7 linked regions of the Homo sapiens genome follow. The protein of the gene in region 5 interacts with the protein of the main gene of each other region in a pairwise test. Each region holds a gene or a part of one and is shown on either strand. Other genes may lie near its edges. The genes, in order: NOSTRIN, ZNF793, PHAX, GPATCH2L, TULP3, GSE1 and ZNF462.

Region 1 (4,299 bases), on a different chromosome or scaffold from region 5:
TTGACAAGGAAAAGAATTGGCTCTGGGCCTTGATGTTTCATTGCCTATGAAGGTTTAGGTTTAGCTCTTAAACCTAAAAATATGTCTAGGGAACTCATCTTCAAATCCATGTGCAAGAAAGGCGAAGTAAGATCCAATTATCTCTAAGGGAAAGAATCCAATCATAAGAAAGTATTAATAGCACCTTCCTATCAAACAATCACATAGAAATCAAGGACAAGTAACAAGCTGTAGCCAAATTTTTGCTTTTTACACACTCATACAGTATCCAGGAAGGGGTCTGTCAAAGCAAGTCTTCTGGGCGCCACACAGTCAGCCCCTCCCCGCATGTCATCGGCCATTGAAATGGCACCAGGCTGCTCCTCAGGTTGGTAACCTGGCTCAGATGCCAACCTGAGCTTCCCATCTTGGTGGCTTAGCCTGGATATCAGACAATGACTGTCACTAACTCAGATGGTGCCGGTGCCATGGTCCGTAGCTCCTAGGAGAATCTGACTCGCTGCAAAAATACAGAAGGAGGCTGCATATGGCATGGGTGTCACGTGGCCCACAGCCTCCCCAGTGTGCATCAGTGAGATGTGTAACATGCCATTCCACATTTCTTGGACCTCTGTTTCCTTGTGTGTAAAGTAAAAGGAGGAAAGGATGGAGTAGACTATGCTCTTTAATGTTCCATATCCCGTAATCTATGACAGTCTGCCACAGGGATTCCAAATACTACGCAGATGGTGAACAAGTACATGGAATCCCTTCAGAGAGGGGCAGTGCTTTGAAACATCACCCCCAGTGAATCAGAACTCACATGATATCAGTAGCACAGTGCCTGGCGTAGTAAAGGCAGTCAGCAAAGTTCATTGTGTTAAATTTAAGGGGAATATCATGGTTTCTTTAACACTGTGAGGATCATCACTAATCAAAAAAAATCCTTCTGTACTAGCATCAATAAAAATAAATTTTTCTATAACTTTTTCTAGAACTAAATTTAACCCTCTTAATCATTCAAGCAGAAAGAGCAGGTGGGCCAAGCTTGATATAGGCACTTTATAATCTTTACAAGTCGCCTGTCTAAACATTTCATGTGCTGACTGGCTGGATTACTAAATGTTTTTTGTAATGGCTATATTTATCAACAGAATTTGCTTACAAGTGCTGGGAAGAAACATTTTCCTAATGGCCGAATGGGAAATGTCTGTCAAATAGACCAGTTGTCTATTTGAGAAGGGGTTATTATTTTTTTAGGGGCTCAGGAAGATCCCAGGTATTCCACTACCAGACTGAAATCCCTTTATCAGGGGAGAAAAACCTCATCGTGTTTTTTTCCCCAATAATTAATGGTCCCCAGGAGAAGCAGCATATTAATATGAATTCATATGGAGATGTAGAATCAATAGTAGATTATTCCCTGGAATGAATATTTGATAGGGGGTTAGGATATTTAAAAGCTCAATGGGTAGGAAAAGAACACCAAAATTGCCTTCCACCTGACTGCACTTCTTCTCAGCAAGCTCTTCTTCTTGTGCTGGTTAATGACATCAAGAAGCCAGCTGTATTGCACATAACACTTAAAGGCTACTATAACTTGGAGTAAACTTACTGTGATTATACAGATTAGCCATTTATAAATGTATTTGTTTCTGATGGATTCTCTAATTGATTTTCATACCTAACATTTCTAATCACAACTCTGTCTCTAACTAATTAGGTTATCCTTATCTCTTTGGGTCTTAACTGTAAATAAGGGAATTAGACTTTGGTGGCTTGCAAACTGTGCTCCATGGAACCCTTTCAGAGTCCTCTCTGGTGGGTGGGAGTGTGGTGAGGTAGGAGTGAGACAACCAAAACTAAAGTCAAGTGATTTCACCCCCACAAAGCAGGTAAGTTCCAAGATTTTCTGAACACACACACACACATACATACACACACACACAGAGAGAGAGAGAACTATATGGTCTCTGGAAGTCTGCTGTAGCATTTAAGTGGGTCTGCTTTTCACAGTTTTTGTCTCCAAGTCTCAGTAGATGGTACATAATGAAAAGTACAGAATGATTGATTCTAAATAAGGGTTTATGCTGGGATAATGAAAATATTCTTAGCAAATCTTTTATTTATTGATGTCACCTTTATCTCAATCTGGATCAAGGTTTGTTGGGGGAATTTTTGGCGTATAGTATATAGGATCAAGGGTAAAGATTCTCTCCATTGCTCTTGTAAGCACATCTCTTATCTGATCGCTAAATTAACAACAAGTATGAAGATCTTCTCAACTTGCATGTGCCTGGGCATACTGGCGTTTGAGGTTTGAGGGTGGGTTACAGGTGTACCTTAGACACAAATCCTCTGCACCGTTGAATTGGCAGAGTATGGCTGGGAGCGAGGTACGAGGCAAAGCCATGGGCCAGTTCCCTCTTCCTGGAACAATTTTGTCCATTTACCACACTCTACCAGTACAAATATTTGCTATGTGCACCATTTTGGGACAAAAGTTAGAAAGTACTGGTCTATGAAATGACAGAAAATCATCTTCCAAAATCTAGACCTGGTAGCCCATGGGTCAATGGAAGCCATAGACTGTGCTTTGGTCCAGCAGCCCCTTACTTTAAGAGGTTGAATGTGAATGCCTTTGCCACAGGCTTCACCACTGCCACTGAAGGCAATTGAGTTTTCAATCACTGGCTTATAAACTTTCAGCATGGCCTAGCCTCCTAAAACTAGTTCCCTTGAGACAGTATTTAAAAATGTGTCTTAGGGAGTTTTGATGGCTTGATAAGTTTAGGAAATGCAGCAGCCCCTGTAACCCAAGCACATAGAAAAATTCTCAACTGGTTCTACTCATTTCTACATTGGTTATGAGCAGAGTTTTCTCTACATGCCCCCATTCCACGCTTGATGTCCAGGGTCCCTTGTTCTCTCCCATAGGTAACTTCTATGTGCAGACTATCCTGTGGTGATGGTGGACTGGTAGGGCCTTTCCCTTAGGACATTTCATCTCAGAGTCCCTTCCTTCCACTCCTGCTTCCCCTAATGGGAGGTTCTTTTTCTCCTTCCCACTCTAAATCCCTCGAATCCATCTCTCTGCTTTCTTTTCTCCCATCCTCAGCCCCAGCTTTATAGTGTGTTTGAGAGCAGAAGAATTTACTCCGTAAACATGCATCCAGGTCTTTCTCTCTTGCACAAGGCCCCATGGCTTTTTGTTGAGTCTTTGTTTCTGCTTTGCTGTGGGCTGGAGAGAAGTCAATAAGACAATACATAAAAATCCATAGCTTAATACTGTGAGATATTTCTAAATAAATCAAATAAGAAAGCCACAGGACCTATAAAGAAAATCATAAAATTTTATTGAACATAAAATAAAATTTGAACAAATGCAAAAACTTACTATGTCCTTGGATAGAAAGTCTAAACACCATTAAAAAGTCAATTTTCCCAAATTGATACATGTATGTAATACAATTCCAATTAGGATCCCAACGGGGATTTAAAAAGAAATGTAATTAGACAAATGTTCATATGTTAGAATAAATGCCTCAGAATAGCCAAATAAATTATGAAAAGGAAAAAAATAGTTGTTTAAAGAGAAAGCAGAAGCAAAGTGTTAAAATCTCTATAACTTAGGTAGTGAGTACATAATGTGTATTATTATTTTCTGTATCATTATGTTATGAAACATAAAAGTGTTTCATAATTCAAAGCAAAAAGACCCTGTATGAGTTAGAACTATGTTCAGCTGCATATTAGAAAAACCCCAAATACATATGTCTTTAGAAAACAACATTGTATTTTTCTTACACATAAAATAAATCCAAAAGTAGAGAGTTGAGGGCTCGTGTGGTGTTCTTCACAGCCATCAGGGACCCAGGCTCTTTTTCTCTTTCCACTCTGTGATCTTAATGCATTATGTCCAATCTCAATACCACTTTATGGCTTTGGCCTTCATTTTCAAGTCCAGAAGGAAGAAAAGAGGGCAAACAAGCCTTTACTGAAACCTCATACAAAACCTTCCCTCACATCTCCTTGGATAGCTTTCAGTCACATGGTTATAGATCAAAGGGGGAGGGAGGCTGAGAAATGACCTTATTTCAGGAGTATGTACCCCACTAAACATTTAGGCATTTTCTTCTCATGACACTGAGGTGTGTTTCATGGGATGCTATTAAGTATTATAGAAGAAAACAAAAGGCTTAGGGAGAAATCTAGTGGAAATGTTTAGGTAACATAGGAGTAAACAAAGAGGTTAAACAAGTTTCTTTACTGCAGGTCTTCTCACAATTTGAAAATACTCCCTTAAACTTTCCCAGTGTG
Region 2 (4,756 bases), on a different chromosome or scaffold from region 5:
CTCTCCCCATGGTGCTCCTCCCCCCCAATGAATATCCCATTAAATTAGAGATCAAAAACAGACAATACTAAGATTAGAAGCTAGGGAACCTCTGGCAGAGTAGTGACTGGGAGGGGCATCATGAGGGCACGGTGCTAGAATGTTGTTTTCTGATCTGAGTGCATTACCCAGGGGTATTCCCTTGTGACAATTCATTGAGCTACATATTTATATACATTTTTGCATATATATCACAATAAAAAGTTTATGTAAAATTTCTTTTTAATTATTTGCTCTGAAACCTGGCACTGAGCACAGTATAGGTGGTGAAGGGAATCAACATGGAGAAAAAATTACCCAAACTCCTTACCCTGGCTTATTATTTCACCCATGCTAAGCAGCTATCTGTCTTTGATTCTGTGCAAGTGAAAAACAGGGACTATCTGCTTTTAAAACTAAAATTTGACCTATGTGGGTTCTGAAAGATGTTACCTGCCTTAGCATCCAGCTGCCTTTATTTCTTAAGATGCTACAGGCATTGTGCTTTGTCTGAAGGTTACATAAAGATCAAACGTAATAATTTTTTAAAATTAAAATATTGTTTTGACATTGCACTTTTTCATTAATGGTCAAAATCTTATTTTCTAACTCAGAAATAGAAAGTCAAATACTGCATGTTCTCACTTATAAGATAATAATGTGTACACATGGATATAGAAAGCAGAATAATAGACACAGATGACTCTGAATGGAGGGAGGGTAGGAAGCGGGTAAGGGATGAGAAATTATCAGATTGGTACAATGTACATTATTCAAGTGATAGTTACACTAAAAGCCCAGGCTTCCCCACTGTGAAATATACCCATGTAACAAAACTGCACTTATATCCCCTAAATCTATTTTTTCAAATCTTATTTCCATTTTATTTGCAATCCCATCTCAGCCATTTTAATAACTATTAGTTCAATTTTAATTTCAGTGAGGAACAGTTTCTAAAAGTAGCTTACATTTTGTTTTGTGGCGGTTGTGGCTTTATCTGTCTTGAATTTTTTCTGCCAGGACTTTATAAGGAATTGATTAGTGGAGGTTAAAAATGGCTATGCCTAAAATATATAGGACAAGGCAAAAAGTTTCTCAGAATACAATAAATTCCAAATCTAGTTTCTCTTCCTTTGATAATTTAAGTTGAGCCTAGATAAAAGTATTTTCTAAACACTCTGTTTGCTCTTTCAGCCAAATCTTTTACATTATCATTTTATTTTATTTTGTTTATTTATATTTATTTATTTATCTTGAGACAGAGTCTCATTCTGTCACCCGGGCTGGAGTGCAGTGGTACAATCTCGTTTCACTGCAATCTCCACCTCTTGGGTTCAAACGATTCTCCTGCCTCAGCCTCCAGAGTAGCTGGGACCTCAGGCGCCCGCCACCACGCCCGGCTAATTTTTGTGTTTTTAGTAGAGGCAGGGTTTCACCATGTTGACCAGGCTAGTAATTCCTGACTTCAAATGATCCACCCACCTCAGCCTCCCAAAGTGCTGGGATTACAGGCATGAACCACTGCACACAGCCTACATTATCATTTTAGATACTTACTCAGTAAATTTGTTTTCTAACCACGGGCAAGGTCACATCCATCCCCGCTGTCACAGAGTCAGAATGGATTTCCAGAAACCAGCCTCACTCTTGGGATGCTGGCACAGATGCGTATGTCATTACCTTTGCCAGAAAGAGCCTTAAAGGAAACATTAGGAAAAAATATGCATTAGATCCCTAACAAGAATAGAAGCCACGTCTTTAGTAACATGTTACTTTAGATAAGTTTAGCACGCGATCCTTTCAAATTATTTTCATTATTGTAGAGAACAATAAAAAGGGTGTGGGTTCAAAAAAGAGTTTTCAGATGGGCCTTGGTGGAGAGGAACTGGCTGCTATTCAGCTAGGGAGTGTCACCTGAGTGAAATGTGTTCCCGCTATGCAGGCTTGCAGCCTCAAATCTGTGATTTTCCCATCCCCAATCTCCACATTTCAGGACCCTCAACACCAACCCCTATAAGTCTCCTAATCAGACACGCATAGTGCCCCCAATCACTGGCCTCCAATCTCCAACCCTCAGAGGTTTTCATAGTCACTGATATTCCCCTATGTTCAAATCTGACCAGGAGAGACTACAGGTCAGTAACTACAAAGAACACCGATCCGATCTGATTGCCAGTGAAATTACACAGCCCCCAATCATGAATCCACACTGATTGCCAATGATATCCCAACGACTGAGGATCAATTGTTGATTCTCACAGTCCCACTCCCACCCACAAGTGACAGTCCGAATCACTGAGCCTCATTGAGGCGTACCTTTAAGATAAGCACACTTGACTCTATTCTCCATTCCCTGATCTACAAAAGTCCAATCGTTAATACTCTCCGATCCTCCACCGATGATATGAAGTAAGTCTCAATCACCGATGGCCCAAAACATTTCTCCAAACATTCATCACCACTGACCTCCCTCATTTGAACCCCAAAGTTTCCACAATCACCAATTCCAGTACCCAAACTATTACTGCCCACAGAACTTAGAACCTCCGATCACTGATCCTCTCGGGCTCCGATCATTAACCTTAAAGATCTCTAAACCAGTGTCTGAAAAATCCCAACTGACCCCAGACCCATGAAGACCACTATTACTGACCCCATGCACCCTGAAAATCAAGACATTTCACAGAACTCGCATTTATTGATTCCCACACACTCCCAATCCATCTTCTTCAGAGACCGTGCCACTGACTCCCGCAAACCTCTGTCCGCCACCACTGAGGCCCCGCGAGGCTCAGACGCCGAATCTCTTAACCCTTCAGTTCCCTTGTCATTGACCCTCACGGGCACCCATAGCTGACCCAGTCGGCCACCGTAGTCGGCAGCTCACTATCCTCCACTAGTCCCAGGTTTGACCGTTTCTCAAACCGTGCCTTCCCATTTATGCTGCATCCGCGCCCTGAATCTGAAATTGGTCGTCCTGCCACGCCGCCTCACCGCGGTATAAGGTCGTCCCATCCTGAATGGCCGGTGCGCAGACTCAATTGCGACTTTGAGGCTGTCAGCCGCCACCCGGCAACCTTCCAGTGAACAGGATTCTGGGTTTCTCAAAGCTGTAATTGGAGGTATGATGGCGACGCCCACTTGACTCCTACCTGGGGCGGCCATGTTTAAAACTGTGCCGTAAAACGGATGATTAAGCCCTTTGCTAGACCAAAAGATAAGGCTATTTTAGGACAAGGAGAAGGAAGTGTCCCTGGATCCCTAAACAGAGATGTCGTCTCTGCTCTTAACTCAGCATCTCAGATGCCAAAACCTCCTGTGGCCAACATGGTGGCGCCCAGACATCAAAGCTGAGCTTTCTTTGTCTCCGGCAGCCTGGTAAGATGGCCGCGTACATTTTTACCGCTTCTTACGTGCAATGGGTGCAGCCTCTCCTAGGAGCTCCCCTATGGCAATGTGAAACTCTTTCTGAGCCAGCTCTAGGAGTTAGAGAGCAGCGAAGAGACTCGCTCTTAGGGAGACAGAGACAGCCTAAGGACGGGCGTGACTTCACGGAAAGGGCGGAGCCGCAAGGAAAGGGCGGGGCTGCCGCAGCGGGAAGAGATCAGAGTTCTTAGCGCATAATGGAAAGGAAATGTTGAAAGCAAGGTTTTTACCTAAGGAGGCTTGCCCGAGAAGCCGACCTGAGGAAAGAATGAGTGCAAGCAGTTTATTTGGTAGGTGGGGGATGGAGAAGTGAGACGGGAGCGATGGGAACGAATATACAGTGCATAGGTGAGCAGATTAGCTCTGGATCAATGAGGGCTCAGTCAGCTTGGGACCTCTGGGGGATTGTGTAGAAACCACTTCCAAGTTTTCACAACCACCAGGCCGATGAAGCTTACATATGTCTACACCATCTCTCTTCCTAATTGTTTTAGGGCCACTCCAGAGGTGTTAAAGCTCCAGCACTTCGAGCCTGCCTCGTGGGAAAGTCTTAGGCTGAGTCTGTAGGTGTCTGCAGTTAAGAAGCCAGCGGTCTGCATATGATTGCTCAGGGGTGGTGGCTGGGTCCAACAGCATTCACTACAGGCCTGCCTTGAATACCACCTAGCGCAGTGCTCCGCATATCACAGGTATTGGAACATCTCTAGAAAAGATTGCCTTGTCTTATGAAAATGGCTTTTTAAAAAAATCCTAATTCCAACTGGTCATCCTAGCAACTGATACAATAACTGACCTCAAAATGTTTCCCAATGATTCCTACCTCCTACTATTCACACTCTTATGTAGTTCCCTCCCACATTGTACCAGGGTTGGACTGTGAGACTAATAGAATGCAGTAGCAGTGATAGATGTCACTGCTGAGATTAAATATAATAAATGGCACCTTGAGTTCTGTCTTAAAGGCTGCTGCCCCCACTTTGAGAGAAGTTAGTTGCCATGTCATGAGGATACCGAGACAGCCTATGGAGAGGCCCAGGTAGCAAGGAACTAAGCCCTCCACCCAATAGCCTGGGAGTAGCTGGGGCCTTCCTATAACCAAGTGTATCACCCTTGGAAGCACATCTCCCAGCCCCAGTCAAACCTTGAGATGACAGCAGCCCCTGCCAATAGTTTGACTGCAACTGCGTGAGAGACACAGTCACAAGCACTCAGCTATAGCAGCTCCTATATTCCTCACCCTCAGAAAGTGTGTAAGATACTACATGTTTGTTGTTTTAAGCTTCTGAGTTTAGGGTAATTTGCTATGCATCAG
Region 3 (5,039 bases), on a different chromosome or scaffold from region 5:
TGATCCCATTTTTTTGCCACCATGCATATATTCATCTAGTTCCTTGTCTAGATCTTTTGTATGCTCTTGAGATTCCTTCCTAAGTTTCTTGGCAAGCAAATAATTGTAGGTCTCGGATTGTCTGCTTCTGTCAATAGTGCCCTCCATTCCCAAGATACCAAGTTCAGTGGCCACTGCATCTTGATTCTGTTCCTGCAGCACAGCACCCCATATGTTGTTAATCTTCTTTCCTCCAGCAACAGGTGGTTTCTGACTGCTCTGGCCAAACTGAAAAGGCTCTGGTTTGGGAGGAGGGTTAAAACATTTCTGTCGTTTGCGTTTCCAAAGACAGCTATCATCATCTGAATCAGAAAAACTTTCTTCACTTGAATCCACACTTTCAACAGCTCGATAATGTGATACTGGTGCACATGCAGTTGCCGTGTTCTGGAAGGCCCTCATAGCACTGTCGCCACCTAGCACTTTCTGCAAGTGAAAAGAAACACAATCAATTTCACAAAACACATAAACTCCACCTACCTAATTTTTAAAAATTTAGAGATTCAACTTTGCCATTCCAAAATGGAACTGATCTTCAAAGACAAATCTGAGACCAATCAAGTTCCTACTTTTCTAAGTTCCACATGGAATTTGCCAATTTAAAAGCCACAAATTCTTATCTTTACAACTAATGCAGCACTTTGTTCTAAGATCTCCTTCTACTATATTACCAAAGCTCTTGTCACCTTTAAAAGATTTCAAACTTTTCAGTTACTGTCAGAATGTTTTAAAATGACATACATAATAATTGTTACTTTTTTTTTTTGAGACAAAGTTTTGTTCTGTGGCCGAGGCTGGAGTGCAGTGGAGCTATCATGGCTCACCACCTCTCAGGCTCAAGCGATCCTCCTACCTCAGCCTCCTGAGGGACTGGGACTACAGGCAACCTTCACCATACCCAGCTATTTTTTTTTTTTTTTTGCATTTTTTGGTAGAGACGGGGTCTTGCCAAGTTGCCCAGGCTGGGCATGTATTTTTTTTTTTTTTCTTGAGATGGGAGTCTTGCTCTGTCACCCAGGCTGGAGTGCAGTGGCGCGATCTCGGCTCACTGCAAGCTCCGCCTCCCGGGTTCACACCATTCTCCTGCCTCAGCCTCCGGAGTAGCTGGGACTACAGGCGCCCGCCACCACGCCCAGCTAATTTTTTTGTATTTTTAGTAGAGAGGGGGTTTCACCGCGTTAGCCAGGATGGTCTCGATCTCCTGACCTCGTGATCCACCCGCCTCGGCCTCCCAAAGTGCTGGGATTACAGGCGTGAGCCACCGCGCCCAGCCTGGGCAAGATATTTTTAAAACCCCAGAGTCCACGGCATTAAGTTTATTTACCAAGTCATGGGTCAATTTATGTAAAAACAACCTGAGATTGAAAAACAAAATATCTTGGTACTAATTTCCTAAACATTTATATGCAAAAGCAAGTATTTGTCTTTGTTAAACTCCTACTACGCTAGAAATGGAAGTTGGGACTATCTATCTTCCTATCTTCAAATAATAATCAGAGATAACACTTACCAGGCATTACTGCACACTGTATGCTCCACAGAATCCTTGCAATAACCCTATCAGTGGTACATCATGCCAATTCCACAGAGGTAGACAAAAAGCAGTGAGGCTAAATAAACCTGCTGTAGGTCACACATCGGTGGCCCCAGGATCTGAACACAGGCAGCCTGGCACCAACGCCCTCTCAAAGAGGTTGCTACCTACCAAGGCAGTCAAGACAAATTCCCGTTTAGAAAGCAGGGAAGCTGGGCCGGGCGCGGTGGCTCGCGCCTGTAGTCCCAGCACTTTGGGAGGCCGAGGCGGGTGGATCACTTGAGGTCGGAAGTTCAAGACCAGCCTGGCCAACATGGAGAACCCCCGTCTCTACTAAAAATACAAAAATTAGGCCGGGCGAGGTGGCTCACGCCTGTAATCCCAACACTTTGGGAGGCCGAGGCGGGCGGATCACCTGAGGTTGGGAGTTCGAGACCAGCCTGACCAACATGGAGAAATCTCGTCTCAACTAAAAATACAAAATTAGCTGGATGTGGCCGGGCGCCGTGGTTCACACCTGTAATCTCAGCACTTTTGGAGGCCGAGGCAGGCCGATCACTTGAGGTCAGGAGTTCGAGACCAGCCTGGGCAACATGGTGAAACCCCGCGTCTACCAAAAATACAAAAATTAACCGGGCGTGGCAGCGGGCGCATGTAATCCCAGCTACTCGGGAGGCTGAGGCAGGAGAATCGCTTGAACCCGGGAGGCGGAGGTTGCAGTGAGCCGAGATCGCGCCACTGCACTCCAGCCTGGGCAACAGCGTGAGACCACCTCAAAACAACAAACAAAATCAGAGAGGCTAATGCAAAAGCCTAGTGCCATGGTACCGCATGACAAAGCTAGGTTCGGTGGAAACATGGAAAACCAGATCTTTGAGTGAGCGATAAACTTCATTCCTGGGCCTCAGTCTCCCTTCGGCTCAGGGAGAAAATGAGCATCACAGGCTGTTTCAGGCTGATGTCCCTAGATGCTACATATTTGGCAAAATCTGCCCCTTTATGGTTACCTAGCGGCGATGGAGTGGGGAAGCCCCAAGTTTAGAAAAGAAAGAGCGGTAGGCGGAGGTGAGACGTCTAAGAGGCCGCCGCAAGCCGGCCTCCAGGAGGCGCCAGGGCTCGCGCGCCCCGCCTCGCAGGGAGCAGCCAGTTCGGGGTTCGCACGGCCAGCCGCTGCCGCTGCCGCCGTCGCCCCTCGCCCCTCGGCCCCCGCAGCCCGGGCTCCGTGAGCCCGCCTGGGGGACGTCTGCTCGCCCCTTCTGCGGCCACTGACCCGACAGCCTGGGCTCCTCGCTCTGGCCCGGGCTCCTAGCTCCCACCCCTCACCCTCACCGCTGCCTGCGCGCTCCCCGGGGCCCAGGCTCCGCGCGCCCAGCCACGATCACCCACCCTCCTTTCACACTCACTGGCAATTGCAGCGGCCTGTCGCTGGGTGCGACCGTCATGTCGGAATCCGAGTCGGAAAGCTGCCCATCTTCCATATCGCCGACCTCCAACGCCATCTTCCCGCGGTGCGCTGCGCTGCACAGCGGCGGGTCAGGAGAGCACTTCCGGCGGGGCAGCCGGAAGGCCCGGCGGCTCGGCTGCTCGGGCGCCCCCGCGCGGAGGCCAGCCTGTCCCAGCGGCCTGAGGCGTCCCATTGCATTCCAACTACCCCGGGAAAATGAATCCCTTGTTCCCCCAACACTTTTCTTCCAAACTTTATTTTCGTGCAAACATAAATATGTCACGTATCGCGGTCGTCTGGGATTCCTCCCTTGGCCGTACATCCTTCCCCTGTATGCTCTGGACAAGCCTCCCCGCTTCTGTTCTTGCTCCTCCACAATCCACTCTACATATTGCTTCCAGGGAAGCCTTTCAAGCTGTATAGTCCGCCCTCTGTATCCACTCCCCATCCACGGATGCCGAACCTGCGGATGGGAAGGACCCACCGTGCACCCCCACATAATGTAAGGGGCTTGAGCATGGCGGATGTTGGTATCTGTGGGGGTCCTGAAAACAATGACCCGCGGATACCTAGGGAGGATTGTACCTTAGCTCGAATCTTCCAAGTGCATCCCTCCCCAAAACAAGGACTGAGTTCTCAGCATGGTGTTTGAAATGTTTGTTTTCCGGTGTCGTAAAGAAATAGCAACATAAATTTAACTTACTGAATAAGGCCATTTTTACTTTCTGCAGAAAGGGTACACTCGCCAGCAGTTTTGCCAGGAGAGTACACTGAACAAAAGGAGACAGGGTCATTTATAACCTGACGTGTTTACCTTACTGCTGTGGCTGGTTTTTATTGGCTGGACCGGACCTCACATTTTGTATTTGTCCCGATTGGCTAGCAACTTAGAACTTTTTAAAAGAGGCAAAGGTAGAGGAGAACAAAGGAAGGAGGAAGTAACTTGTGGAATGCTGAGAAAGATGAAAACACTTTTAAATAAGGAAGAGGAACAGGCTATGACCTAATGCTTGCTTGGACTAGTAAAAGCATGCCAGGGCAAATATTTAGGCTAAATTGTGGGAGCTAAGAACATAAAGTACATTTTTTTTTATTATGGCTAGCAGATATTTAAGAATGTTAGCACAGATCTTTGAATAAATTTTGCTTTTAAGAGAAGTTACTATTTATTCCTAATTAGACGGGGAGGAAAGTTTTTGAAGAGGAACCTCTGTTTTACTTTGCCACATGGCAAACAAGGTCATGTGGACTGGGCATCTGGTCACTGGTCCTAGTGTGTCCCCCTGCCTAACCGCTGGCGCGCTGAACCTGTTGTTCCTCAGGCCAGGCCTCTGCATTTGCTGTTCACTCGGCCTGAGAGGCCCTTCCCTCAACCCACCCCATTCTTTAAGGGTTATCTTGGAACCCGCCTTTGCGAAAATTATAACAGTGAGAAAATTATGGCAGTGGGAGAGATCTGATCTAGCCAACCCCTATCTTGCTTTTAGCCTTCAAGCTGCCCTTAATTATTCCTGTGCTTGGGCCTGTCAATGTAACTTTGGGAGACATTTAGTTTATAGTTTAAATGATAATAACCCTTCCCCAAAAGCCAACCGCCTTTGTAAAGCTAGTAAGAGACCACCAGGGTAGACGGATAAAGGAGGCTGAATTCTGCTAAGGTGTAGACATAAACCGTTGCCAGTCATTATCCCAGAGGTCACAAGGTATGCAACTTTTCCATTACTCTTCCAGATAATATCACTATTGTAGACCCTAAGATTGGCGTTTTGAGATATCTTTTCAGATATTTTGCATGTCTGACTACCAATGGTTCCACCTGAACCTCTAACCGCTTCTGGGTTCCCACACAGAAGTTGTCGAGCTGCTTGAGGACAATTTCCCATACCCCTATGACTGCATCCCCAACCAATAAGCAGCAAGAACCCATTGCTTAGCCACTCCATCCCTTCCCCAAACTATCTTTGAAAAACACTAGTCCCTGAATTCTCCAAGAGATTGATTTGAGTAATAACTCTGTCTCCC
Region 4 (4,721 bases), on a different chromosome or scaffold from region 5:
CTACCAGGCAACTGTGAATGGGCTCATCCCTTCTCTGTGCGTACATGATTGAAAGGAGATAGCCGGTTTCTGTGACATCCTCTTATAACAACCTAGTTTTGTTCTTGAGAGTGACCAGAGCAAGAGAAAAGTCAATGAAATTTTGCAGATCTTGCAAACCTGTGGCAATAAGAAGGTATTATCCTTTCTGTACCAAGGCACAACTGATTCCTAAGTGAGGGGGATATGTGTTCTGAGATGTTAATGTTAGTGATAGACTGTTTTCAACACCTTGGTAAACATTTCTTTTGACTGTTAGCAAAAGCTGCCTTAACAGTCTTGGCTTTTAGAAATGCCCCTTCATTCATTAGATGTGTATGGAACACATCTTATGCCAAGCACTCTGCTAGGAGCTGGGTATACAGAGAAGAAAGGCATTCCTGCTCTCATGATGTTCATGGTCTTCTGCGGAAGAGACCAGAAAAAAAGTATTACAATGTAGAATGAAATAAGAATGACAGGGTATTTTGGCAGCAAGGAGGAGGGCACTTTAACTCAAACTGGGCAGTGGAAGAAGTAAAAAAAAACATTGAAAGAAATCCTGAAGGATAAGCAGGAGTTAAGAAGAGTGGATGAAGCCCTCCAAGGGTAAAAGCATGGTTTATTCAGAGCACTGCAAGTGTTTTAGTATGGCCCACATGTAAAGCTTACAGAGGAACAAAGAGAGAAAGGCAAGAGCCAGGAAGTGAAGGGTCCTGTGTATACTGGCTTACTTGTTGAGTTGGAGAACTATTGCCGTATTCCTCTGCTAAGCTCAGGGTGCATTCGTGGAAACCCTACTGCAACTGGCCCATTGTGCATACAAAGCTGGAACTGAGATGTGAACAGATTTGCATTGCCTTGATCACCTTCCGTGGGAAATATAGCTAGGCCCACTTATTGGTAGGAGCTACTGACATGTTAAAACTAGGTTAAACTGAATTGGAAGTAATGGTGTATTTGGAATCATGGCTGACTGATTCCATTACATGTTCTAGCATGATACCAGTCTGAGGTTATTCCCCTTGAACCACCGACTTAGTAGAGTTTAATGCACAATGTGATGGTCTTAGTTCCTTGTACTGTTCTTCAGTGTCAAAGTTGTTCAACTACCAGTTAAGTTTTTTGGGCTTTGTTTCTCAGTAGTGACAATAAATTTGTGTTGATCTATTTACACCTTTTGGACTGAACACCTTAGCAATCATTGATATTTTAAGCCTACAGGAAGTGCCCATGGGATAAAACCAATCTGCTGGCTCACACTAAGTTCTGATCCCATGATTTTGGTCTCATTAATACCGTGCTATAAATAAAGTTAGCTAAATCTTTTGAAACTGCATAAAAGTGAAATAATTATGAGTTTTGGGCCAACATTTTTCCTGAACAGCTTCTGACTGACCAGCATTTTAAATTAGGCGATGCAGTCTAGCTTTTGTACATAGAAATAAGAAAGTGACTTATGTTCCATTATTAAAATAGTATAGGGAGGACAGGTAAATTACTAATTTTTCATTGCTCATAGTAGAGAATTAAGGTATATTGACTAGTGAAATAGAGGATTATGGGGATCATATGAAAATATGATTAAAGAGATTATCACTAGAAGAAAAATTCAGACTGCTAATTATGAGAAAAAACATGTATGCACAACCAAACAAATCACAAAAATGAAAGATGTCTAAAACCATAGAATAGGAACAAATGTACCTGTCATATTAATAAAAGTAAACTTATCTGTAGATAAAAGGCAAAAATGTCAGCAAACACTAATTTCATGTTATAAGATTCAGAAAGGTTGAGCAAAAGTAAACCAAGCAAACACAAACAAGAAAATGAGTTGTAGTCTGCATATCAGGCAAGGTTGAACTTAGGGAAAAGGAACCGGAAAAAAAAAAACCAAAAAAAACCACGACATAATGCTAAAGGGTGTGACTCACGAGATAATGTTTCTAGATATCTGTGTACCAAATAATGGAAAACCATTTATGTATTGGAAACCATAGGAGACACAGGAAGAAACAAATACAATGTTAGTTGGATATTTTAATTCAATTCTGTCAATTCATGACAGATCAAGTGGATAAAAAACTAGGACATGGGATGATTTAAATAAGATACAGAAGATCTAGTTGATGCATATTAGACTTTACCCTAAAAGTGGTAACTACACTTCAAAGTATCCATGAAACATTTCCCCATTTGACTGTGTATTAGAGCGTACAGAAAACATAAGTTTCAGAACGGAAAAAAGGAACAACAGATGGCATTTGCTGATAAAAATGCAATAAACTTAGAATTTGAGGATAGGTGGTCAGAAAAAAAAATGCAATAAATTAAAGCCAGAAAACACTGCTCATCTGCAATCCAAAATGTTTTTAAGCTCTTCAACTATTCTTGGGTTGATTAGGAAATGCAAAGTATTAAAAAAACATTTCATATCTAAAATATAAACTTGTTCCTCTGAGATACAAATAAAACAGTGCTCAGAGGAAAATTCATTGCCCTAAAATTTATGTATTAAAAAATAAGATAAATGTCATATAACTCAAAATATTAGGAAAAGGAATCTTTTAAAGGCAGGCTAAAAGAATCAAGAAAAATTAATTAGAAAAATGAGGAAACAAAGCTAATTTTTAAAATATGTAGTAAAATATGTAACATTTTAGCTAACATTACAAGAGAAGACAAACACAAAATAAGAATTACCAAGTATTGAATAGGTAAGAGTCATAAAATATTCTTTGCTCAACTGTATGCAAACAATTTAAAAACTTGGATTAAATGGATAATTTTCCAGGAAGGTATAGTTTGCCAAAAAATGACATCAAAAGAAATCTAATATAACAATTGTCATAGAAGAAATGAAGTAAGTATTTCAATTAGCATGACAGACTAAATACTTTTAAAGACCCAATGAAAACAAAGAAATGCATTTGGAGAATTAACAGAAACTTTTTGTAACACCAATTTTTTATTTTACATTTTAAAGCATGGAATGGAATTTATTGTAAAGACGTGTATTTTATAGAATCCAAGCAAAAGCTCACCAGCCAGAGATAAAGTGAGGCCAGCTCAGGGAATGTGAGCAGTGGCGATTTATTCCCTCTGGTGTTCCATGTTAGCCTGACACAGAGCCCCCTCTTCACATTCTCAGGGGCTCTTGATCCAAAACCTTTTTTAAAAAAAATAATTTTAGACTTAACAGAAAATCTGCAAAAATAGATTTCCTGTGTGCCCTTCTCTCAGCTTCTTCTAATGTTAACTTACATACCAATGGTACAATTATTGAAACTAGGAAATTAACATTGGCACAATCCTATTAACTACATACTTTATTTGAATTGTAGCTGTTTTCCCAGTAATGTTGTTTTTCTGGTTCGGTATTCAATCCAGGATCCATATGTACTTGGGTCTTTCTGGGTTTTCTGTTCCACTGGTCTACTTGTGCATGGTACCACACTGTTTTAATTATAGAGACTTTATAGTATGTTTTAACAACTGGCAAGGCTAGTCCCCCTTATAATTTTTCCTATTGTGCTTCTGGCTATTCATACATGTTTGTTTTTCCATGTGAACTTTAGTATCAACTTGTCTAAATTCATTTTTTAAGGTACATTGGTATTTTATTGATATTATATGATATTAACTGATTTAGAGAGAACTAACATCTTTAAAATGTGGTGTCATCCTATCCAAGAATAGGAGATGTATTTCCATTTATTCAAGTCTATTTTGTGCCTTTTAGCAGTGTTTTAAAATTATCCTTGTGTAGGTTTTGTGCATTTCTTGCTAAGCTTATCCCTAAGTATTTAATTTATTTGCTAGTAAATGAGATTTCCTCTGCCATTATGTCTTCTAACTGGTTATTGCTCTCTATATAAAAGCTACTGATTTTGTATGCTAATATATCTTGCTACCTTACCTAATTTTTTTAAAAAAATAAACAACAGAAATTTATTTCTTATGGTTTCACAGTCTGGGAAGTCCAAGATCAGGGTGCTGGCTGATTCAATGTCTGGTGAGAGCTTGCCTTCAGGTTCATAGATGGCACCTTCTAATTGTGTCCTCACATGGTGAAGGGAACTAGTTAGCTCTCTGGGGTCTCTTTTATAAGGGCATAAATCCCAATCACTAGGGCTCCACCCTCCTAATCTAGTGACCTCCCAAAGGCCCTGTCTTCAATGCCAACACTTTGGGGGTTAGGATTTCCACCTGTTTTCGGGGGACACAAACATTTATACCATAGCAGTCAGTAACAAACTCTTTTTGTTTTGCAGCCAAAGGTCAGTCAGTTTTATCTTCTTAGCTTAGTATAATCTAAGCCCTAAAACCATGAAATGCATGGGAAAGGTTTTTTTTTCTCTTTTTCAACTTTTATTTTAGATTTGAGGGGTGCATGTGCAGGTTTGTTACCTGGGTATATTGCGTGATGCTGAGGTTTGGGGTATGAATGACCTGTTACCCAGGTACTGAGCATCCGTACAGAATTCTTTTACTTTTGAAGTTAGTTTTATCATTGCTCCTCTAGAAAAACAAACAAAAAAACCAAAAATTATTTCTAAACACCCAGAATAATAATAAGAAATGAAAAAAATCTATAGAAGTAAAAAATGACAGACATTTATGCAGCCAAAAAACACATGAAAAAATGCTCATCATCACTGGCCATCAGAGAAATGCAAATCAAAACCACAATGAGATAC
Region 5 (4,299 bases):
CTTGAGCCTGGGAGGCGGAGGTTGCGGCGAGCTGAGATTATGCCCCTGCACTCCAGCCTGTGCAACAACAGCAAAACTCCATTTCAAAAAAAAAAGTAACTTGCCTGAAAAGGTGGTAAATATGAAGTACTGAAATCATAAGAAACTGCCATATCTTATCTATGTGGCCACAGCTATTTCATCTCATACATAGTCTGTGAAATGATCGATGAAACAAAATCACATACTGTAGGCTGGGCGCGGTGGCTCACGCCTGTAATCCCAGCAGTTTGGGAGGTCGAGGTGGGCGGATTACCTGAGGTCAGGAGTTTGAGACCAGCCGGGCCAACATGGTGAAACCCCGTCTCTATTAAAAAATAAAATTAGCCAGGCGTGGTGGCAAGCGCCTGTAATCCCGGCTACTTGGGAGGCTGAGGCAGGAGAATCACTTGAACCTGGGAGGCAGAGGTTGCCGTGAGCCGAGATTGGACCACTACACTCCAGCCTGGGCGACAGAGCGAGACTGTCTCAAAACAAAAACAAAAACAAAAATGAATGCTGTAGCTATTTTTTGAGACGGAGTTTCACTCTTGCTGCCCAGGCTGGAGTGCAATGGTGCAACCTCAACTCACTTGCAATCTCTGCCTCCTGGGTTCAAGCAATTCTCCTGACTCAGCCTCCGGAGTAGCTAGGATAACAGGCACCTGCCACCACACCCAGCTAATTTTTTTTGTATTTTTAGTAGAGATGGGGTTCACATGCAAGGAAAATATTTTCTTTTTTTTTTGAGACAGAGTCTTGCACTGTCACACAGGCTGGAGTGCAGTGGCGCGATCTCGGCTCACTGCAAGCTCCGCCTCCCGGGTTCACGCCATTCTCCTGCCTCAGCCTCCCGAGGAGCTGGGACTACAGGCGTCCGGCACCGCGCCCGGCTAATTTTTTGTATTTTTAGTAAAGATGAGGTTTCACCGTGTTGGCCAGGATGGTCTCGATCTCCTGACCTCATGATCCGCCCGCCTTGGCCTCCTAAAGTGCTGGGATTACAGGCATGAGCCACCGTACCTGGCCAAGGAAAATATTTTCTATAGAAAAGGAGTTTTCTGCTGTGGTCTAGAAAAGGGAGGCCAAAGAGCTAGAATTTGATAGGGTTATCAGGTTTGTCCAAGAAAGAGAAGTATCTTTTTTTTTTTTTGAGACAGAGTCTCGCTGTGTTGCCCAGGCTGGAGTGCAGTGGTGCGATCTCGGCTCACTGCAACCTCTGCCTCACGGGTTCATGCAATTTTCCTGCCTCAGCCTCCCGAGTAGCGGGGATTACAGGTGCACCCCACCATGCCCAGCTGATTTTTAAACTTTTAGTAGAGATGGAGTTTCACCATGTTGACCAGGCTGGTCTCAAACTCCTGACCTCATTCCCTCTGATTCCTTGCTCACCAATAAGCCTTCTAATTTGAAGTTTAACTTCTTAGGTATCGTATTCCCAGGAAAAGAGTATTATGAACAGTAGACATGAATACACACTGAAAGAGTAGAGCTCCCTTTATAAATTAATAACTTGGGGTTCTGGTTTTAAAACTTACTGGTGTGGGTTTAACTAGCGTGAATTTGTGCCAAAGGACCTGGTTATATCCAGTTCACTGACAAACTAAGCTCTCACTTGTTAAGGGGAGACTAGACCCCTGACCACAGTGTTCCTGCCAAGGTATCTGGGGAAGCCTCTCTCTATCTACTTACAGACAAATCAAACTCATTTAGACCAATGACTTAAGAAAAAAACAACTGTAGACTCAAACTGTAATCAGGGCCACAGCTACTATACCTCAGTATTGAATGATCTTACTACTGTCCAAGTTTACAAATAAGAAAAATACCATTAAACATATATGTGCAAGCTGCCATCTTGGTGAAAACCGTCATGCAGTTTGGATGGGGGAGGAGAGAAGTGCTACTTGTGTTTGAATGTAACAATGTCAATTCCTATTCCATCTATATTTTACTTCCCTGAAAACCTAAAAGTGCTTTAAACGAGGCTACATCAATGAAGGACTCATTACCAAGATAGAGTAAGTCAGGGAGCCAGGAAGAAAGCCAGAGCTGATGGTTAGATGCCCTAAATGCAATTAAAACACACTGCCTTCGTGATTTTAAGTGTCATATAAACTAAAACTTAATCACTTTTAAATTTCCTAATTATCTTGGGAATTGAACTGTAAAAGAATCTATCTTCCCAAGAATTTAGTGGTATGTCTTACTATCCTGCTAAAATATTGAATGGTGATGTCAAAATAAACAGTAAGAAATTAAAGGAGATCAGATAGGTGGAAATTTCCATGAAATAACTTTATCCAATAAAATAATAAAGCTCTGACCGGCGCAGTGGCTCATGCCTGTAATCCCAGCACTTTGGGAGGCTGAGGTGGGCCGATCTCTTGAGGTCAGGAATTCGAGGCCAACATGCCGGAAACCCCATCTCTACTAAAAATGCAAAAATTAGCTGGATGTGGTGGCACAAGCCTGTAAATCCAGCTACTTGGGAGGCTGAGGCAGGAGAATTGCTTGAACCCGGGAGGCAAAGGTTGCAGTGAGCCAAGATCGCGCCATTGCACTCCAGCCTGGGCAACAGAGCAACCATCTCAAAATAAATAAAACTTCATTTAAATTAATGATAGTTTAACTAATTCTCAATTTTCCTAGACAAGGAGTCACCCTAGAGGTGATGGGCTAAGGTTACACTATGACAGTTTTCCAACAGACTGACCAACCACAGAGTACAACCAGCATCAGGCTAGTTGTCTGCAGTCTATCAGTTTGTTTAAAAATCTCGGCCGGGCACGGTGGCTCACGCCTGTAATCGCAGCACTTTGGGAGGCTGAGGCGGGCAGATCACGAGGTCAAAGGATTGAAACCATCCTGGCCAACATGGTGAAATCCCATCTCTACTAAAAATTAAAAAAATTAGCTGGGCGTGGAGGCATGCGCCTGTAGTCCCAGCTACTCAGAAGGCTGAGGGAGGAGAATCGCTTGAACCTGGGAGGTGGAGGTTGCAGTGAGCCTGAGCTGAGATTGCACCACTGCACTCCAGCCTGGCGACAGAACGAGACTCTGTTTCAAAAAAAAAAAACAAAATAAAAAAACTAACTTAATCTCCCCGCCCACAAAGCAAGATCATAGGAAGGTAAGACTAAAATTTTTAAACTAGACTTCTTAAAATATCATTCAGTGCAGTGATGACCTCTCATCATACAAATAGATGAGCAACTTGGCTCAAAGGAACTATGTTGTACTTTAATCCATTTTCATCAGACGAAATAAATGTACTCTACCTAATATGCATCCATGTCAGAAATATCACAGCAAGAATCAGAAAATCCATTCTGGGCTGGGCGCAGTGGCTCACGCCTGTAATCCCAGCATTTTGGGAGGCCGAGATGGGTGGATCACTTGAGGCCAGGAGTTTGAAACCAGCCTGACAAACATGGCAAAACCCTGTCTCTACTAAAAATACAAAAAATTAGCCAGGCATGGTGGCGTCTGCCTGTAGTCCTAGCTACTCGAGAGGCTGAGGCATAAGAATCGCTTGAACCCGAGAGGCAGAGGTTGCAGTGAGCCAAGATCATGCCACTACACTCCAGCCTGGGCAACAGGGCTACACTCTTGTCTCAAAAAAAAGAAAAGAAAAGAAAATCCATTCTGCAGCTTGCTAAGGTGCCCACATACCCTGAAAACGAGTATCTTGCCAGGTATGGTGGCTCACACCTGTAATCCCAGCACTTTGGGAGACCAAGGTGGCTGGATCACTTGAGGCCAGGAGTTCAAGACCAGCCTAGCCAACATGGTGAAACTCCATCTCTACGAAAAATACAAAAATTAGCCAGGCGTGGTGGTGCACTCCTCTAATCCCAGCTACTCTGGAGGCTGAGGCACAAAAATCACGTGAATCTGGGAGGCAGAGGTTGCAGTGAGCCAAGATTGCGCCACTACACTCCAACCTGGGCAACAGAGAAAGACTTCTCCTCAAAAACAAGAAAGAGTATCCTAGTGAAACTGGTAAAAATAAAAGCAAGATATACTCAACAGGAAAGTATTTCGATAAATGGTGTTGGGAAAGCTGAATATCTGAATGAAGCTGAATCTCTGTTTCACGCTATACACAGCAATTAATTCAAACATACAGTTAGACAGAAGAAATATGTTCTAGTGTTCAATAGCACAAGAGGGTGACTATAGTTAAGAATAATTTATTGGCTGGGAGTGGTAGCTCATGCCTGTAATCCCAGCACTTTGGGAGGCTGAGGCGAGCAGATCACCTGAGGTCGGGAGTTC
Region 6 (3,500 bases), on a different chromosome or scaffold from region 5:
CGCCTTCAAACTGACGTTCCGTCCCAATGACTGTCACAACTGTGCAAGAATCGTACGCTGGTACAAGAATGGAAGAAGACAGCCTGCAGGAGGCCACATTCACAATGATGAAGACCTCGAGTGGTCGCCTCTGAGCCTGGGCAGCCCATGGGATGGTCCTGGGTGGTGGCAGGTGGGGCTATCCTTCCCTTACCACTCAGGGAGACGGCAGGACTGTCCCTCGGAGAGTTTGTCAAGGAGTCGGCCACTGCTGCTGACAGTGCCTTCTGCTTCATGGCACGGAGCATTTCAACAAGTCTCTCTTTGTCTATGAGAAAAGCAGCCTGAGATTAACGAGCCAGTTGCATCATTTTTTGGAGAGAAGGACAGCGGGATTCTAGCCGAGCCTTGAGGGGCAGGCAAAGCACTAAAGCCCGAAAAACCAAAAGCAGGTGTGATGGGGCAGGCCCAGTTGAAAGGAAGCAACCATCTCAAAGCGAGCCCAGATTGCTCTCGGCATCCACTACACAATGTCCTAGACGTGCTCCAAAGACAGCTGTCCGTGCGGTGACGACGCCTCTGTGAATCACTGTGCCCACGGACCTCGGTGGTGACGTGCGAGGATGTATTCTTATTTCAAGTCAGACAAGGTGGCCCCAACACAAAGAAACACCCCAAAGACCCAGGCCTGGCCTCTGAGGCAGGGTGCCTTCTCCCCCACTCCTACCATTACTGCCACTTCCTGAAGGGGAAAGATGACCCCACGATGTTCCACGCAGCAGATCCCTGATGTCACCCGGCCCTTCTTGACTGTGAAACTCAAGGGCTGCATCGCCCTTAATTTTTTTTCCTCCAAAAATTCAGGGAAAAAGATGCTTTGTATCTAGGGAACTGGGCTGGCAATCAACACGTCACTAGCCCGCTAAGAGAAAGGGAAAACTACTGACTGGTTAAAAGGAGAAAGTAAACGGCTACACCCTGATCAACACCTTGAAGCTGCTCAAGGTCCAAGAAGTAACTCTGCTTTCCTTCGACTTTCTCCCAGAGAGGAGGCCAGGGGCCCACGAGGACTTGAAAGCGTGCGTAAGGGGCAGGGCCAGGAACGTCAACATCTGGGCACCAAGCCAGCCTGCGCTGCAGGCCAAGGAAGCCAAAACCCTGAGCAGGTGTTGTGGCTGCGTTGTTTCTTCTGCTATATGGATTCGAGCCCAGAGGGTCTGTCCCAATGTGGCCCTGTGTGGCCAGACTGAACTGGAAGCATCTTTCAAGGCAAGCCATCTGCTCAGTGTGTGCTGCCCTGCTTGGCAGCCCTTCCCCAGGCCTCCGGCCACCAGGACACAACACCCAGCAGACCACCTAAGCGGTCCAGCAAGAGGAAAAGCCTGCAGCAGACAAACCTGGAACACCTGGCACCTCCCCTCACGCCTGGTGGTCACTGGAGCACTCGGCTCAAAGAGCGCCTTCTCGGGCGCTGGGAGATGGATGAGTGACATGGGTAGTCCTCAGGTCAAGATGGTGGGGCTCTCAGAGCAAAGCCTGTCAGGTAAGGCTGCTATGGAGGGCTTGTAAGAACAGAGAGGCTGTTCCCGGGAGCCGGGAGGAGTAAAGGGGCAGCCTCAGGCTCAGTGATCGCAGATCCTGCCTGGAGTCCACCGGCCCCACCTGCTGCTTCAGAAACCCACTTCCACCCCAGTGAGCCCCCACCTTCCTACCCAGGCGAGGCCCTACCTTTCCTCTTCTCAGCGCTGATGTGGGTCAGGTTGAAGATGGTCAGGAACTTCTTCTTTTCTTCGAAGTTGGGACTGTTGTTCATCTCATCAGGGCTGTAGCGGGTAGACAGCGCCAGTCTCGGTGAAGGCGTCTGCCGCTTGCTCTGAATTGTTGGGGGCGACGGGCTTCTCTCTCGCAGCATCCTCCGCCGCTTCCTCCGCTTCTGGGCCACCAATTCCTCCTTCTGCTGTTGGGTGGTCAAGCCAAAAAGTTGCAAAAACTCTAGCTTCTAGATTGGGAAAGAAAACAAATGAGTTTGAAGCCACTGGCAGTGGTATGCTTGCACTGTCCCGGGGTCCCCTCCTGGGGTCCTCGAAGTGTGGGCCGTAGCTGGCTGCGCCTGGTGGGAGAAGAGCTTCATGGGGCGAACCCGCCAGGACTTCGGAGGAACCTAGCAACAGTGGGGTGGACTGCAGGGTGTGGACGCTAGGAACGAGAGCCCAGCCCAGAGCATGTCCGTGGGGAGGAGAGCCCAGTACCTCAGAGGACGTGTCCAGTTTGAGGGGCGGCTGCTCGGCCACGCAACGGAGGTGGGCCCTGACCTCCTCCTCATCGCTCTCGTCGTAAGAGTCATCGAGGTCGTAGTAGTACCCTGATGGAGAAATGGTTGTATTCAGCCAGACAAAGAGCCTTCATCTGTCCAGTGGACATGCCCGCAGGGCCTCATGTGTGCAGAGCACCTATCAGGCCAGGCCTGCTGGCACCTGAACACCCTGAAGGCCAGTTCCTTTCAACCGAGGTGGAAACCAACATTAACCCAGTCCTGGGGCTTTGCAGGACCGCAGACACCAGGCTTCCCTGGGATCCATGGCTCCCAGTAGCTGGGTGGTCCCCTGGGCTGACAAGACCTCCCTCCTCCCCCTGGCAGGGAACCATTCATCACACAGGCCTGGGGCTGTGTCCACGGCAACACAGGGCTGCTTGTGCACATGCACTCCCCCATGCTGTGGCCATCTGAGTCCATCTCCTGGGAGGAGACAGGCACACACAGGCCTGAGCTCTCTAAGACACAGAGAACAATAGCAGAGCCCCTGCCCAGGGGCGCTGGGGTATCTCCCTCCTCCTTTACAAAGTGAGTAGGGGAGAGAAATTTGGCTGGGCCCTCCATCCAGCCTAGACCAACAACCAGGAAGACCGCCTGTGCCCCAGCTTCTATTGAAGAGGAGGCTGAGCTCAGCACTGGACAGGACCTGAGTGTTCAGCATCAGGAAGAAAACTGGGCTGGAGCCCCTGCTCCCCTCTGCACACTCTCGCCTGCTCGGTTGCTCTTCCTGGCTCTCTGGAGAACTCAGGGAGCCGCTGGCTGAGGACGCCCCACCCCCAAGCAGAAATAAGAATGAAGTGCCTGACCTCCTACCCTGACCCGGGGCAGTGCCAGCCGCCGCGTCCTCAACCCCTGACCCACCTGCTGCAGCTCGTGGCAGCGGCCCTGTATGTGGAGCCCCCGCTGAGCCCAGGCCGGCTCTCCTGTTATGCTGCACTATTAATATTTAAAACTATCTTATTAGCCTCCGCTCATCACTTATTCATCATGCTTGTCTGCGGAACTATCTTCACAGGCGGGCTTTGATTTGGCTTTTTGGGACAATTTGCATCGAGGCAGGACAGGCACGGGGACTAGGGTCTGCCTCCCCTACGAGGGTGTCATGCTGCTACAAAGAAGCCAGTGCACTTGCCACCTGGGGCCTGGGACTACCCCAGGCAAAAAGCAGGAGTGGACGGAGAGGGGCAGGTGGCTGGCATGCAGGCTC
Region 7 (4,299 bases), on a different chromosome or scaffold from region 5:
TTAAGATGACTTTTAACAACACAGACATTTAACCATGAGCAATGGGACAGTCCTGTAAGGAAGGGTGCAATGGGTTTCCACTTCTGTCTCTTCTTGGATGAGCAAAAGTGATTTTGTAAAGAAGAAGAGTGATGTTTGGAAGTTTCCACATTTTCTAAGCTCCTTCCAAACGAATGCATCAATTTTTAATCCAGGAGGCAGTCTGGAGAAGGTAGTGCTGGATGTGGACTTCTGGCAGAAACACAGTTAACGCTGTAAACAGTTGAACCTCAGTGTGGCACTCCTCCAAATGAGTTGACTGTCGAAAATAAAATGTTCCAGAAGAACTGGGAGAACAGGAAAGAAGTTAAAACAGCATGGTTTGCATGCCAGTACTAAAGGAAGAAAAAAAAGTTTGGGTTGGGAGGGCATTGGAGAGAAGATAATTGTAAGTTGAACTGTCTCTTGGATTTATAAGACCCAGGAGAAGTTTCCAAATGTGGGAAAATGGGTTTTTATGAATTTAGATTGTATTTGCAGTATGCTAGGAAGCTCTTTTGGATTTTTTTTTTCCCCTTGAACTTTGCATTTGGAGAACTGCACACACTGATAAAAGGGAAATCCATTGGAAGCAATTTGGATTTACATTTTGTGCTTGGAAATGCTATCATAAAATTTATCTTTTTTCTAAGTCCTCCTATTCTCATCAGCTGAAGCACGTACAGGATTTTTAAAGTGTTTGGATGTGTGATTCCAACACAAAGTTAATTATTTTCACGGCTTAGAAGGACAAAGGATAGAGTGGTGTGGTGTGAGGAGGTGCTAGTATTGTCACCTACAAATGCATTGCCTTTTACTTCTGGTGAGCACATTACTTGGTGTCTTCAAAGCATTCTTGCCTAATTCCTAGCTGGAGACATTTTTTCTTGAGTTATTCTTGGAGGGAAGGTTTTTTTTGTGTGCCAGGTCATGGGTATTTTGGTATTGATTTCCTTGCTTTCATGTGTTTGCTTGTTCAGTTCACTGCATGTTGCTTCTGGATATTAATAAAATACTTGTGCTGCGCCTGTCCACATCTTACCCCCAACCTTATTCAAAGAGTAGACCCTGTTCTTTAGGGTGAAAGGAAGTTTGACAGGTACTTATTTGTTCAAAAAATAAATACTTGAAGATGAGAACTGTGTAATTCAGGAAGTTATTTGCTAGACCTTCACATAGACAAATTTTAACAAAGACCACACCAGGAAAAATGGAGAAAATTCTACTAGGAACCAATAGATCCTGATTAGAATGTTTTAGGATCACTTAGTAGGAAATTAAGCATTTGCCCAAGATGAGGAAGCGAAGTCTTACCTTTGGGTTCAGCTTGGTTGGAGCACAAAAGGAGCTGTAGGCCCAGGTGAGACAACTGTGTCAGAAGTAATAAAGCCCAGGATTTGTGGAGAGAGCTTAGCCGCCACAGAGCCCAGCTGGGGAAGGCCAAACTCACTCTTAAGTTCTCGTCTGAGCAGTTGAACCAGAACACACGCTAAGGCCTCCAAATTTTGGAATTCTTCTTTTTCCTGTTCAGATTTAAGAAGGTAATGCCATTATTCTTCAGTTTTGCTCATGTCAGCTGAGTGTTTCTCTTTTGAACTGGGAAATGCCAGAGGCTGGGGGGTGGGAGCCGATGTCCTCTAAGGGAAAATTCTCCCCGTTAACACTGCAAATGTGCCTTAACATTGTACTTATTCCTCCAAAAATAATTGTTCAGTGGCACAATGTGGGATACTTGAAAGATGTTTGCTGCACAAAGGTTCCAATACTTACCTGCAGATTAAGAAATGAGTTTCTAAACCATCTCATTTCTATTGCTAATGAAAAGCTTTGGAAGGCACCTGTGAATTAGAGCTCCAGCTGCTATCATGGTAGGGAAGTTAGGCCTTGAAAGGATACGTGGATTAGCCTGTCAGAAAAGCAAACAGTAGCATCAGCACAAGTAGAAAATAGACAAGGTTGTTAAAGCTAACAGGAAAGTAGGCTAAAGCATTGCTGTAATTTTATAGTGGAAATTTGCTGGGAAGGAGTGACTGGTTGGATGGGAGAAGGAAAAGAAGAGAAGCAGGAAAATAATTGACTAGCCAAATTGAAGAAGTCTGTCCACTGGGGAAGATCCTACAGGAAGAAGTAAGGCATTGCTTTTAAGAAAGCGATTATAGCAAGTAGAAAAAGACCTTGTAATTTGGTACCTAACACATGTGAAATATGAAGACCAGTGCTCAGGTACACATTCTTTGGCCAGTTCCTATTGTAAAAAATAGAATTGGGTTTGGAGGACAATTTATGTGACTTTGGGGTTACAATTACAGCCTTTCTGATAAAGGACAGATGGAAACTCAAGGGAACTGGTTAAGTAGGCCTAGGTGGAGATTTTCCTGGAAAACGAACGAAGTAGAGAATAGAGCACAGCAGAAAACAGCTGCATTATTAATGGACAGAAAATGTGATAGTCCTCTCTGAAGTGATCCATAGAGCTTCTCTACCTACACCCTGGGTGTTAGAAGAAATGAAGAACAAAGACATGCCTTTTCAGAGGGGAAAGGAATGGACTATGACTACTACCTGGCGTCAGTTTGGGTTTCAGCCATTGACTTGAGCCAAGCGTCACAGGCTGGTCTGTCCTTCCAGTCCCAGCATTTTAAAATCCAAAATAAGGCCACTGTGGTCCAGAATGTTTAGCCATTCTAATCCCTAATTACATCATCCCTCTGTGTTATGACTAATTAGTCAGCAATTGAGCACCAATCATTCAACCCAGATTGCCATGGGCCTGATGGAGGGTCCTTCGTTTGGGGTACAATTTGAATGCTGGGTTATAGCTGAAGATGACCAAAGATAGATACCAGCTACAAGTACTTATCACCCAGAATCTTTTCTCTTCAGTGGTTTCTATCTTAAATAGTCTTCTCTGAAGACTAATTAGTATTTGATAACAATAAGTGAGAAGGGAGTCTTTGTAGAAGAGACCATTTTCTTTTTTCTTTTCTTTTTGGAGACAGTTTTGCTCTGTCTCCCAGGCTGGAGTGCAGTGGCACGATCTCCACTTAAGCAACTGCTGCCTCCCAGGTTCAAGCAATTCTCCTGACTCAGCCTCCCAAGTAGCTGGGACTACAGGCACAAGCCACCATGCCCAGCTAATTTCTTGTATTTTAGTAGAGACGGGGTTTCACTGTGTTGTCCAGGCTGGTCTCGAACTCCTGAGCTCAGGCAATCTGCCTGCCTCGGCCTTCCAAAGTGCTACGACTACAGGCATGAGCCACCATGCCCGGCCTCAGAAAAGACCATTTTAATTTAAATATCGGAGTTCAGTTGCAAGAACTTCCCCCCTTTCTGCTGTCAATTGAATATTGTCTGTTCTAATACTGGGTAAGAACAATAGAAAATAAATATGATTGCTTCATCAAAAAAATCTGCCAACTCTATAGAGTGGGAATACCACATAGGACCTTAAAAAATGCTGTCTTCCCTCGTGGACTGACTCATAGTTAATACTGGACAACGGTTTTTATTTTTTTTTAACATTTAATATGAACCAGGGACTGTTCATACGGTAGAGGAAACTGAGGTTTAGGGAGGTAAAGTAATTTAGCCAAAGTCATGAGGCTGCAAAGTGGGGGAGCCAGGATTCACATGGAGTGGGGACTGCCTCCAGAGGCCTGGCTCTCAGCTGATGGGACCCGGCCTTGGTTATTACTTAGTCTGCTAATAGCTTATGTTCTTGATGGTTTATCTCTTCCAGTTGCTTATGCCAGGAGTATATCCTTGGAGTTCTAGAAGGAAATCTGAGAATAATGGAAAATTAATTGTAATATATTATTTGATATGAGAGATATAACTTATTGCAATAGCTTGAGGAAGTGTGTTTAACTTAAGAGCGCCCTTTTCTGAATTGTAGAGGAGATGATAGGGAAAAAAAGCAAGACACCATGTAGGGGACACTTTAGGAAATAAACATTTTAAAATTATATCAAACTCAGAAAAAAAGGAGCCACCTACCTGTTATGGCAGGAAGATATGCTGGTGACTTTTTTTTTTTGTAGAAAAGGTGTTGTACTTTTTTTCTTCATAGGGCCCCTTTTGAAGCCTCAGTGCCCTGTATTGGCTCTGGTTACTATCAGCCTGAGAAATGTTCTCAAAAGCTACGCAGATGTTTGAAAATTAGTTCTATTCTTTAATGGTCATTTTTGGAACATGGTGCAGATTCTCTTAAAAGTGTGGGTGCCGATACCCCCTCCACCCCTTTTTGTGATCACCATGTGCTCTATTTAGATCATGGAGATG

The links.
Region 1: the proteins of TULP3 (region 5) and NOSTRIN interact in a two-hybrid assay, tested with the Homo sapiens proteins (one large-scale study listed by BioGRID and IntAct).
Region 2: the proteins of TULP3 (region 5) and ZNF793 interact in a two-hybrid assay, tested with the Homo sapiens proteins (one large-scale study listed by BioGRID and IntAct).
Region 3: the proteins of TULP3 (region 5) and PHAX interact in a two-hybrid assay, tested with the Homo sapiens proteins (one large-scale study listed by BioGRID and IntAct).
Region 4: the proteins of TULP3 (region 5) and GPATCH2L interact in a two-hybrid assay, tested with the Homo sapiens proteins (one large-scale study listed by BioGRID and IntAct).
Region 6: the proteins of TULP3 (region 5) and GSE1 interact in a two-hybrid assay, tested with the Homo sapiens proteins (one large-scale study listed by BioGRID and IntAct).
Region 7: the proteins of TULP3 (region 5) and ZNF462 interact in a two-hybrid assay, tested with the Homo sapiens proteins (one large-scale study listed by BioGRID and IntAct).

The regions. Positions count from the first base shown.
Region 1 is NC_000002.12:168,805,355-168,809,653, forward strand, and holds part of NOSTRIN (nostrin), read left to right. Parts: intron 1-4,299. UniProt on the Homo sapiens protein: Multivalent adapter protein which may decrease NOS3 activity by inducing its translocation away from the plasma membrane.
Region 2 is NC_000019.10:37,505,223-37,509,978, reverse strand, and holds the start of ZNF793 (zinc finger protein 793), read right to left. Parts: upstream 3,041-4,756; 5' UTR 3,013-3,040; exon of another isoform or gene 2,672-3,012; intron 1,715-2,671; 5' UTR 1,576-1,714; intron 1-1,575. UniProt on the Homo sapiens protein: May be involved in transcriptional regulation.
Region 3 is NC_000005.10:126,598,996-126,604,034, reverse strand, and holds the start of PHAX (phosphorylated adapter RNA export protein), read right to left. Parts: upstream 3,089-5,039; 5' UTR 3,073-3,088; coding exon 2,977-3,072; intron 466-2,976; coding exon 1-465. UniProt on the Homo sapiens protein: A phosphoprotein adapter involved in the XPO1-mediated U snRNA export from the nucleus.
Region 4 is NC_000014.9:76,210,499-76,215,219, forward strand, and holds the end of GPATCH2L (G patch domain-containing protein 2-like), read left to right. Parts: 3' UTR 1-3,845; downstream 3,846-4,721.
Region 5 is NC_000012.12:2,914,344-2,918,642, reverse strand, and holds part of TULP3 (tubby-related protein 3), read right to left. Parts: intron 1-4,299. UniProt on the Homo sapiens protein: Negative regulator of the Shh signaling transduction pathway: recruited to primary cilia via association with the IFT complex A (IFT-A) and is required for recruitment of G protein-coupled receptor GPR161 to cilia, a promoter of PKA-dependent basal repression machinery in Shh signaling.
Region 6 is NC_000016.10:85,661,822-85,665,321, reverse strand, and holds part of GSE1 (genetic suppressor element 1), read right to left. Parts: intron 2,342-3,500; coding exon 2,229-2,341; intron 1,979-2,228; coding exon 1,708-1,978; intron 308-1,707; coding exon 194-307; intron 1-193.
Region 7 is NC_000009.12:106,869,374-106,873,672, forward strand, and holds part of ZNF462 (zinc finger protein 462), read left to right. Parts: intron 1-1,571; exon of another isoform or gene 1,572-4,299. UniProt on the Homo sapiens protein: Zinc finger nuclear factor involved in transcription by regulating chromatin structure and organization. Involved in the pluripotency and differentiation of embryonic stem cells by regulating SOX2, POU5F1/OCT4, and NANOG.